Homo sapiens: one gene and its partners. The protein of the gene in region 2 interacts with the protein of the main gene of each other region in a biochemical or structural test. Each region holds a gene or a part of one and is shown on either strand. Other genes may lie near its edges.

Region 1 (3,653 bases), on a different chromosome or scaffold from region 2:
TTTCTTTTGAGAGAAAGTCTTGCTCTGATGCCCAGGCTGGAGTGCAGTGGTGCAATCTCAGCTCACTGCAACGTCTGCCTCCCAGGCTCAAGCAATTCTCTTGCTTCAGCCTCCCAAAGTGCTGCGATTACAGACGTGAGCACCGCACCCAGCCTAAAAGTCATTTTGTTGTTATGACTTTAATGCACATCACTGTATGTTATACTTCAATTAATAAGTGAGAAAGAAAAATTCACATAATTCATAAATTGGACATCTAACAGTTTCGAAAAAATGTCATCCTAGAGAGAAGTGATTTAAAGGAAGTATCTACTAGAAGTCTGATGATTATTCTTTTTAAAGGAAGTACTTTCATGAAGTACTATTTTTAATACATTTATTGAAATATAGTACATGTACAGAAAAGTATATAAATTGTAATTATATCACTTACTGAATTTTCACGAAGTCAGTAGTCTGTATAACCAGCACCTAGATCAAAAACATTTTCTTAGAACCTCAGAAGCCCCCTCATGCTTCCTCCTTCTTTCAATCTACTGCTCTGCCAGTGGTTGTTAATTTTAACATCCACTATGGATAGAGCATCTATATCTCATGTTACTTCCCTCCAAATTTGACTTGATAACTTCTCAAATCTGTCTTCTCATAAACATTACAACCATCCCATCTCCTCCCTTTTCTTTTTTTTTTTTTTTTTGAGGCAGAGTCTCGCTCTGTCGCCAGGCTGGAGTGCAGTGGTGCGATCTCAGCTCACTGCAACCTCCTCCGCCTCTCTCCTCCCTTTTCATCAGCAACAAAGTCCTACAGACTGTCTGGGGATGCTGTCAAGGCCATTTGACCACTGGCAGTCTAAGATCTTAAGAAGTTAACAATGAGAGCAGTTTGTTTTATTACAGTATGATCATTATCCAAACTTCCATAGCCCTTTTTTAAGAGGTGTGTTGGAGATGTTGGGTTGCCTCATTACCATCATTACCAGTATACCTGCCTTTTCCCACTGAAGTTCAGAGGACACTTGGTATCAAGTTTAGAATGAGAGTATCTAGATTGTGAAAAATTATAACAGTCTCTAGAATTTATATGGTACTACAGTGCTGCTTCAGAGATTTCAAGTGATATTCCAACTGTCATCTTATTTATGTAGCCATTGTCTCTGAAAGGGGAGATGACCAAGAGATCTTAATACACCATTCCTCCTGAATGGATGAGTGAGTTATGGGTCCCTGATCCTGATGGAATCAGGTCATGATTTAATGAGTGGCTCTAATGCTCTTTCCAATAAATTTGTACTAGATTTTACCATCTATATATTTCCCTATAAGCACACCTTAAAACATTTTGTGATCTGTTGGTTTCTTTTCTCCAGGAGGTTACCCCAAAGCCTGTTCTGATCTCTACCCCCACACCCACCATTGTACGTCCTGGCTCCCTGCCTCTCCACTTGGGCTATGATCCACTTCATCCAACCCTTCCCTCCCCAACCTCTGTCATCACACAGGCTCCACCATCCAACAGGCAAATGGGGTAAGTACAGAGAGCAGGGAGAAGTAGTGAAGGCTGCATTTCTTTCCATTACATGAAACTATTTGATAAAACTGGGACTGTTTTCCAATACCCAAGGAAAATAAGTCACTGAGATTATCTCTCAAAATAAATTTTTCCCCCATAAACAGAATCTTCTTTACCTTTTTAATAGACAAGCAAATATTTATTTGGAGGTAATACTTTTTGTTTTTTTTGGGTTTTTTTGAGATAGAGGCTCGCTCTGTCGCCCAGGCTGGAGTGCAGTGGTGCAATCTCGGCTCACTGCAAGCTCCGTCTCCCGGGTTCAGGCCATTCTCCTGCCTCAGCCTCCCGAGTAGCTGGGAACACAGGCGCCTGCAACCACGCCCAGCTAATTTTTTGTATTTTTAGTAGAGACGGGGTTTCACCGTGTTAGCCAGGACGATCTCGATCTCCTGACCTCGTGATCCGCCTGCCTCTGCCTCCCAAAGTGCCGGGATTACAGGCGTGAGCCACCGTGCCCAGCCGGGGGTAATACTTTCTTAATTTAAGGGTTTAATACTTCTTTAATCTAAAAAGAGCTCTTAAAACATTAGAAGTTCATTACAGTGTGGAAACCACACCCTGTAGAAGTCTATTGGGGTACTACTGAATGAAACACTGAAACCCATTAAGTCTCCTCAGTCCCAGTTAGGGTTCTTGGTCTTTGCCACCTCTAATTTTATTTGTCTGTTTGTCTTCACTCCTGGCACGGTACCCATGGGTTAAGAGGCTGTTGTCAGGATTCAGATTCTTAGAGCTTATTGTTCTCTGGACCCACTAGGAAAAATAAAAAGGGACAACTTCTTTTTGAGGCAGGGTAGAGCAAGCCATGGAAAGAAACAAGAGAAACATTCAGATTTGGCCATCATGTGACCTAACTCAGCTTTGCAAAATGACGACTTTGATCCAACTTCCCCTTTCCCAAGGCAAGCCAGTGGTAGGAATGTTTAATTGTTCTAAACCCTTTAATAGGATTAGCTTCCTACTATTTGAGTTTGCTTAATTTGCAAAGTATAAAGATTTTGCCATTTTTCTCCATCTATAAGGTAAGTTGAATAGGATTCCCTGCCTTCTCACCTTCATGAGGGTGTCAAGATTTTTACCATGCTGCCCTATACCTTCCCTAACTAGAGAAGACTGGAAAATCTTCTGTAATTATAAGAGGAAGATCCATGGACAAAAGGTCTGTGTTATGAGCATTTCACTTCATGTCTCCTCTAGGTCTCCCACTGGCTCCCTCCCTCTTGTCATGCATCTTGCTAATGGACAGACCATGCCTGTGTTGCCAGGGCCTCCAGTACAGATGCCGTCTGTTATATCGGTGAGCTCTGTAGTTGGGGCAGCCAACCCTACCAACATGGTAATCCTTCCCTTCCACCTGAATGGTCATAAAATACACATGAGCCCCAGGGAAATGTGGGCTCTGATCTATATTAGCTGAGCATGGCAGCCTGCCTAAACTCTTCACTAACCTCTGCCAATCCAGCACTATGGAACACTAGATAAAGACTCATCTGGACAATTGGCTCCTGGTCTAGGAATTGATCTTGCCAGCCCACTGATTAGTTGCTTTCACTTGGCACGTAGCACCTCCCAAATTGCCCAACAATTTCCTCAAGATAACAGCCCCAACCCTTCCCACAGAAATTGCCCCAACACTGAAGGATTAAATTCCCTACTCTGGTGCTCCATGGAGAAAGGTATTTCCCAGGCTGTCCCTGCACGCCCTATGGGCACATTGCACACAACAGGCCCTGATGTGCCAATCTCAAAAGCGCTTCATTTTAGGGAAACTGTTGCCCCACCGATGGTATTATGTTCCCTTCTCTTTTTTTTTTTTTCCTTCTCTCGATCCAGCTGGCCAGACCTGTGTCCATGGTGCCCAACATTCCTGGTATCCCTGGCCCACCAGTTAACAGTAGTGGCTCCATTTCTCCCTCTGGCCACCCTATACCATCAGAAGCCAAGATGGTGAGTACATCCCAGTCTGGGGCAATGTTGGCCTTTCTGAAAGAAGTGGGTGATACCAGCCTAGGTCTTTCAAGTGAGCCAAGCAAAGGAACCTTCTGGGGCTTGCAAAGCTAAGGACTCCCTGCTGTGGGGTCTGG
Region 2 (3,653 bases):
TTTAGAGGTGAAAAGCCAGGCATCCTTCAAGCTAGTGGATCTTTGACAAAGATGCATTGCAAAACAATCAACAAACAATCAGAAAGGCATGCTATGTGTGAGTGATGATCCCTGCAGCATATGCCATAGGCTTGTTGTAGAGGAGCTGCTCAGTAAATGGTGGATTCAATTGAAACAAGTCTTTTTTGGATGCTTAATGGGAAGTTGTAGGGTGGGTATGATGGACTAAAAATTATTTCTAAAGAAGGTTATATATTGTATATATTCCAGAATCTTCCGTTTTTATCGTTTCTTAAATTAAAAAATAAAAATTTAACTCTGTCCCAGGTTAACTCAGATGTTAACACTTATATAGAAATTTTTTTCCTCTTTCCCCGTTAGGCATCTCACAGTATTTTCTGCTTGTCTGTTTAGGATGTTAGGTAGAGGAAAAGAGAGTGATAGAAGATTTTTTTTCTTAAAAAAAAAAAAAAAAAAAAAAAAAAACTGGGCCAGGCATGGTGGCTCACACCTGTAATCCCAGCACTCTGGGAGGCCGAAGCGGGTAGATCACAAGGTCAGGGTTCGAGACCAGCCTGACCAACATGGTGAAACCCCGTCTCTACTAAAAATACAAAAATTAGCCGGGTGCGGTGGCGCGTGCCTATAATCTCAGCTACTCAGGAGGCTGAGGCAGGAGAATCGCTTGAACCTGGGAGGTGGAGGTTGCAGTGAGCCGAGATCACGCCACGGCACTCCAGGCTGGGTGAAAGAGTGAGACTCCATCTCCAAAAAAAAAAAAAAAAAAAAAAGTTCAATGTTAGTATTTGCTGTCTATTTTAACTTCTTACTTTAAAGTAAAATTAGCAAAGTCTTATTGTTTCAACCTGATTTAAATTTTATCTCCCTTTTTTATTATTTAAAGGTTGGAGTCTTTATCACTGGCCTCAAAGGATGTAGACTTTTTTTTTTTAATAGAGATTTTTATTTTTGTCAGTCACTTTTAAGAGGATTAAAAATGTTGATCCCTTTCATATTTCCTCGTCCCTTTAAAAATATTCTATTATGACAAATTTCAAACATATGGAAGAGTGAATCTTGATCACCTATCTGTCTGTACCCTAATCCGTTAATCCATTTTTTTCTGATGAATTTCAAATTAAGTTGTGGACATCTGTGTATTTCACCCCTAAATACTTGAGCATATCCCTCATTTAACTTGATTTCTCTCTTACTTTCTACAATTTTATGCAAATGAGCTGTTTCCCATAGGTTCTGTCTTGATCTTAATCCTTTAAGGGTAAGGGCTAACTTGTGGTTGTGTTAATGGTCTTCATCGCTGCTGCCTATTTTTTTTTTTTAATTTCCTTAAAACAAAAGGTACTCTCAAAAGGCATATTGCACATGATTAGCAAGATTCAGAAGGAAGTGGTTAAAGTTTCTTACATGCCTTATACCTATGCTTTTAGTTCTTGTTTTGTATAAGGAATGTTGCATGAGGATATTGGAAAAAAATTTAAAATTAAGAGTTGAAGGCGGAACCTGATCTATAAGGATCCATTATGTTGAAGCCAAAGAAGCAGGTCTAGCTATTCTAAGTAAGTAGGCTGGAGAGGTGTTTCTTAACTCTATCTGGGTTTTGTTTTCCATTTGAAGAAAAATTATTTTAAGCAATTACCATTTTTGATTACTGTAATGACTCCTGTGTCCAAAAATTAATTACGTTTCTAATTATTAAAATAGAAAAAAAAATCTGTTCAAATTTTGTTATAAATAAAGACCCCAGACTTAACCTCAGTAATGCATTAGTTCTTAGCATAACTTTTGCATTTTCTGTTGCATAGGCTTTGTGATCTTTAACAGGATTATTTAAGCCTGAAATAATAGAGATACTATTTGGAGATCACTGTTTGACTAAGCCCTGAACATTTCCACGAATGTAGCCTTTAGAGAGAGAGGGTTCCTCAAGCTGTAGTTTCTTCCAGAGACATTGCTTGACTCCTCCTGGCCTCCCTTCATAAAGGATTTCTACATGGGCTGCATTTTAAGTGATCTTCTACTTTTGTATTTTTAGAAAATAATTCAAAATTTATAAATAGCAACTCTAATCTTAAACTGCTCTCCAGTATGTCCGCATTTTTATTCCAGAGAGAATTATTAATAAGTTGAAAACTGATTATATTTGACTTGAAATATTGACATTGATCTCTGGTATTGCCTGTTTTTGAACGTACTGTTCTTTTAATGTACAAAATAGATGTTTTTTGTGAGGAAGTTGTTTTTTTTTCTCCTAAGCATTGTTACCAAAATAAGACTTATTGAATGGTGACTTTAATACTAGCTTCTTAATATTCATAGAAATATTTAGATATCTAGGCTGGTGTATTTAGTCCTTGAGCATTTGCAGAATTACTTATCTGAAACATAAATAAGCTGTTAGTGTTATGTTATTAATAGTGAGTGTTGACTGTCTAGGCACTGTACCAGTCAGTCCTATGGAGACATTCTCCCATTGATTGCTCACACCAGTCCTGTTTCCAAAGCCCCTGAATGGTTACATTCAGCTGTACTGTCTTTCAGCAAGTTATACTATTTGTATCAAATTGGTTAGTGAAATCTTGTAGGTAATAGTCTTTCTTGAAAGTTTTGGAATTGATGTTTTTTGATGCTTCATGAAAAAAATGAGTTTTGAGTTTTGGAACCAAAATAGTAGTTGCTCCATGCTGGGCAGTGTGTTAGACCTTTTATATTTAATTCTGTTGAACCTGTGAGATAAGTATTAGTCCAATTTTGCCATTGAAGTTACTAAGACTAAGGTGAATTTGTGTAAATTGCATGTAGAGCTTGGGATTCACTCTCTGGTCTGACTTCAAAGCCATGTTCTTTCTGGTACATAGCCTTGTGCATGAAGTTTTTTTGCCATTTTATCCATATAAAAATTTTCCAGGAGGAGGATTTTTGCCTTAAACAAAAGAATAAAACATGTTTCGTATTTATTTATAGAAAAGGATTTTTTTTGGGGAAAGTTATAAAGCAGTTGCACACTAGAAAATGAGAAAGCTTTCATGAAGGAATGCAGGTCAGAAGACCTAGCTAGGTTAAACTCATTGCTTACCTCATCTTGATAGAGGAGATCTGGCTTCTTGCTATGTGGTTTTTCCATCTTCCTTCTACTTTGTCTTCTGTAAGAGAAAAATACTGATAAGTGACATTTATTATAGGTTATGTAAAATAATATATATGTGAAATTCCTTAAGATCTTAAGACTGAGCTAATTTTTTTTTATTAATTATGCTACTGTTGCTTCAGGGAACTAAGCAGTAAGCTGAAACCAATTCTGTGATGTTTGTCATTTATATTATCTGGAGAGTTGTTACCTACATTGCAGTTTATCCTGATTTCAATTTGACAATGTCTACATGTTCTTTTAAATTACTTGCTGAGTTGGTGAATTTTTGTTTCTGTTATTTTTAAAAACTGACAACATCCTTCTGCTTAAAAAAAATTCAGTGCTGTAGTTTTGCTTGCAGCCTGTATCTTAGCAGGGAACCCTTTGGAAACCCAGTCTCCAGAGAAAGTTTGACGGGCATCTTGGCATAGGCTGCTGCCTGGTATTACTCAAAAAGAAGGGCTGTTCATTTCCAGCAGGTGTTAAGAGCTGAGTAAGGCCCATA
Region 3 (3,653 bases), on a different chromosome or scaffold from region 2:
AGAGCAACAAAGACAAAAAAAACCTTTAACCATGACCACCCCCATATCCCACACATAAAAGAAACTGTATCCAGTTAAAATGGTGAGAATTGGTTTTTTCCCCCTTGATACTGCCCCATCTCTTTGCCTGGGTATAATCATGAAGTGTACATTCCTGGTATTACATGTTATCGTGATTTGGTCACACCATGAGTGAGTTATGACTAAAATTTTGTGTTTTGGGGGCATTTGAACATTTATTCTATAAGAATACTATCAGTTTTTGGCTGGGTATGATAGCTCGTGCCTGTAATCCCAGAACTTTGGGAAGCTAAGGTGGAAGGATCATTTGAGGCCAAGAGTTCGAGACCAACCTGGCCAACAAAACAAGACCCTATCTGTACAAAAAATTAAAAAAATAAATAGTGGGCATAGTAGCACACAGCACACGCCTGGCACTAGTGACTCCAGAGGCTGAGAAGAGATGATCACTGGAGCCCAGGAGTTTGAGGATGCAATGAGCTATTATCCTACTACAGCACTCCAGCCTGGGTGACAGAAACCTAATTGCTAAACACACACACACACACACACACACACACACACACACACACACACACACACACACACACACCCCTATGTGTTTTTGTTGTGTATGTTGGCTGTGTACTGGTAGTTTTGAAGAAAGATATATTCACTTTAATATCTTAACTACTCTAAAGTTTTGACATGATTGCTTAAAGACTTGTAATGTTTTAGAGTCTATTTTCTTTTTCTTTTTTTTTGAGATGGAGTCTCACTCTTGTCATCCAGCCTGGAGTGCAATGGCGCGATCTTGGCTCACTGCAACCTCCACCTCCTGGGTTCAAGCGATTCTCTTTCCTCAGCCTCCTGAGTAGCTAGGATTACAAGTGCCCGCCACCAGGCCTGGCTAATTTTTGTATTTTTAGTAGAGGCGGGGTTTCTCCATGTTGGCCAGGCTGGTCTCGAACTCCCAATCTCAGGTGATCCGCCTGCCTTGGCCCCAAAGTGCTGGGATTACAGGCGTGAGCCACGCGCCTGGCCTGGAGTCTATTTTAAATTAATTAGTATCCTTTCGTGTAAACTGAGAGTTCATAATCAGATTAGATTGATTTTAAAGCTATATATTATAATGTCAGTAACTGAAATTCTGCTGCCAAGTTTTTTGTTGTTTTTTGTTTATACAATTCAGTGACTTTGAGTATATTTACAGAGTTGTGCAGCCATCACCAAAATTAGGTTTTAGAAATTTTTACCACTCGGCCGGGCGCAGTGGCTCAGGCCTGTAATCTCAGTACTTTGGGAGGCCAAGGCAGATGGATCACTTGAAGTTGGGAGTTCAAGACTAGCCTGGCCAACATGGTAAAATCCTGTCTCTACTAATAATACAAAAATACCCAGGCGTGGTGGTGCATGCCTGTAATCCCAGCTACTTGGGAGACTGAGGCAGGAGAATCACTTGAACTTGGGAGGTGGAGTTTCCCATGAGCCGAGATTGCACCACTGCATTCCAGCCTGGGCAACAGAGTGAGACCTTGCATTTTTTTTTGAGACGGAGTCTCGCTCTGTTGCCCAGGCTGGAGTACAGTGGCGCGATCTCGGCTCACTGCAAGCTCCGCCTCCCAGGTTCACGCCATTCTCCTGCCTCAGCCTCCCGAGTAGCTGGGACTACAGGTGCCCGCCACCACGCCCGGCTAATGTTTTGTATTTTTAGTAGAGACGGGGTTTCACCGTGTTAGCCAGGATGGTCTCGATCTCCTGACCTTGCAATCCGCCCGCCTCAGCCTCCTAAAGTGCTGGGATTACAGGCGTGAGCCACCGCGCCTGGCCGAGACTCCATCTTAAAAAAAAAAAAAGGAAATTTTTATCACCCTATAAAGAAATTTTGGGGCTGGGCATGGTGGCTTACGCCTGTAATCCCAGTACTTTGGGAGGCCAAGGCAGATGGAGCGCATGAGCCTAGGAGTTTGAAATCAGCCTGGGCAGCATAACAGCACCCTGTCTCTGAAAAAAAAAAAAAAAAAAAAAGAAAAAAAAAGAAACAGAGTTTTGGCCAATTTAGTTACTTCTGATTCTCACCCTCAGCCCCAGGCAACTAACCTATTTCTCATCTCTATAGATTTGGCTTTTCTAGGCCCAGTGTGGCTCATACCTGTGATCCCAACACTTTGGGAGGCCGAGGCAGGAGGATCACTTGAGACTAGCCTGGGCAACATAGTGAGACCCGTGTCTCTACGAAAAATAGAAAAAAATTATCCGTCTTGGTGGTGTGCGGCTGTAGTCTCAGCTGCTTGGAAGGCTGAGGTTGGAGGATCGCTTGAGTCTCCAAGGTTGAGTTTGCCGTGATCCTGCCACTGCACTTCAACCTGCGCAACAGAATGAGAACCTGTCTCTAAAAAAAAAAAAAAAAAAAGCTTTTTCTGGACATTCCATATAAATGGAATCATATAGTGTATGACCTTTTATATTTGGTGGCTTTCACTTTTTTTTTTTTTTTTTTTTTTGAGATGGAGTCTCACTCTATCACCTAGGCTGGAGTGCAGTGGTGTGATCTCTGCTCACTGCAACCTCTGCCTCCTGGGTTCAAGTAATTTTCCTGCCTCACCCTCCTGAGTAGCTGGGACCACAGGTGTGCGCCACCACACCTGGCTAATTTTTGTATTTTTAGTAGAGATGGGGTTTTGCCATGTTAGCCAGGCTGGTCTCAAACTCCTGACCTCAAGTGATCCGCCTGCCTTGGCCTCTCAAAGTGCTGGGATTACAGGCGTGAGCCACAGCATAAAGTTTTTGAAGATCATTTATGTTGTAACATGTATCAGTACTTCATTTCTTTTTAGGGCCAAATAGTTATTCTGTTTTATGGCTACAGTGCATTTTGTTTATCCATTTACCGGTTGATGTTCATTTGAGTTATTCATTCAGATGTTCAACTGAATTGTGAATAAAGCATTTTTTGTTTCTTTTTTTTTTTTTTTTGGAGATAGGGTCTCACTCCGTTGCCCATGCTGTAGTGCAGTGGCGTGAAAAAGCTCGCTGCAGCTTCACCCTCCTGGGCTGAAGTAATTCTTCTGCCTCAGTCTCTCATGTAGCTGGGACCACAGGCACGTGCCACCATTCCCAGCTAATTTTTTGATTTGTTGCAGAGATGGGGGTCTCGTGATTTTGTCCCGGTTGGTTTTAAACTCCTGGCCTCAAGCAATTCTTCTGCCTCTGCCTCCCAAAGTGTTAGGATTATAGGCATGAGCCACCTCCTCGCCTGGCCTGAATAAACCTTTTAGAAGGCTGGGTGTGGGGGCTCATGCCTATAATCCTAGCACTGTGGGAGGCTGAGGCAGGTGGATCGCTGGAGTCCAGGAATTCCAGACCGGCCTGGGCAACGTGATGAAACCTGTTCTCTACAAAAAATGAGCCGATGCTGGGCATGGTGGCCTGTATTCCCAGCACTTTGGGAGGCCGAGCTGGGTGGATCATGAAGTCAAGAGTTTAAGACCAGTCTGGCCAAGATGCTGAAACCCCATCTCTACTAAAAATACAAAAATTAGCCGGGCGTGGTGGCGGGTGCCTGTAATCCCAGCTACTCAGGAGGCTGAGGCAAAGAATTGCTTGAACCTGGGAGGCAGAGGTTGCAGTGACCCGAGATAGCACCACTGCAC

The links.
Region 1: the proteins of URI1 (region 2) and ATF7 form a complex in vitro, tested with the Homo sapiens proteins (one large-scale study listed by BioGRID).
Region 3: of the proteins of URI1 (region 2) and RPS6KB1, one has a biochemical effect on the other in vitro, tested with the Homo sapiens proteins (one study listed by BioGRID).

The regions. Positions count from the first base shown.
Region 1 is NC_000012.12:53,532,373-53,536,025, reverse strand, and holds part of ATF7 (cyclic AMP-dependent transcription factor ATF-7), read left to right. Parts: intron 1-433; exon of another isoform or gene 434-660; intron 661-1,366; coding exon 1,367-1,524; intron 1,525-2,766; coding exon 2,767-2,866; intron 2,867-3,402; coding exon 3,403-3,516; intron 3,517-3,653. Other genes in the region: ATF7-NPFF readthrough protein, read left to right, coding at 1,367-1,524, 2,767-2,866, 3,403-3,516. UniProt on the Homo sapiens protein: Stress-responsive chromatin regulator that plays a role in various biological processes including innate immunological memory, adipocyte differentiation or telomerase regulation.
Region 2 is NC_000019.10:29,980,154-29,983,806, forward strand, and holds part of URI1 (unconventional prefoldin RPB5 interactor 1), read left to right. Parts: intron 1-5; exon of another isoform or gene 6-97; intron 98-3,653. UniProt on the Homo sapiens protein: Involved in gene transcription regulation. Acts as a transcriptional repressor in concert with the corepressor UXT to regulate androgen receptor (AR) transcription.
Region 3 is NC_000017.11:59,899,619-59,903,271, forward strand, and holds part of RPS6KB1 (ribosomal protein S6 kinase beta-1), read left to right. Parts: intron 1-3,653. UniProt on the Homo sapiens protein: Serine/threonine-protein kinase that acts downstream of mTOR signaling in response to growth factors and nutrients to promote cell proliferation, cell growth and cell cycle progression.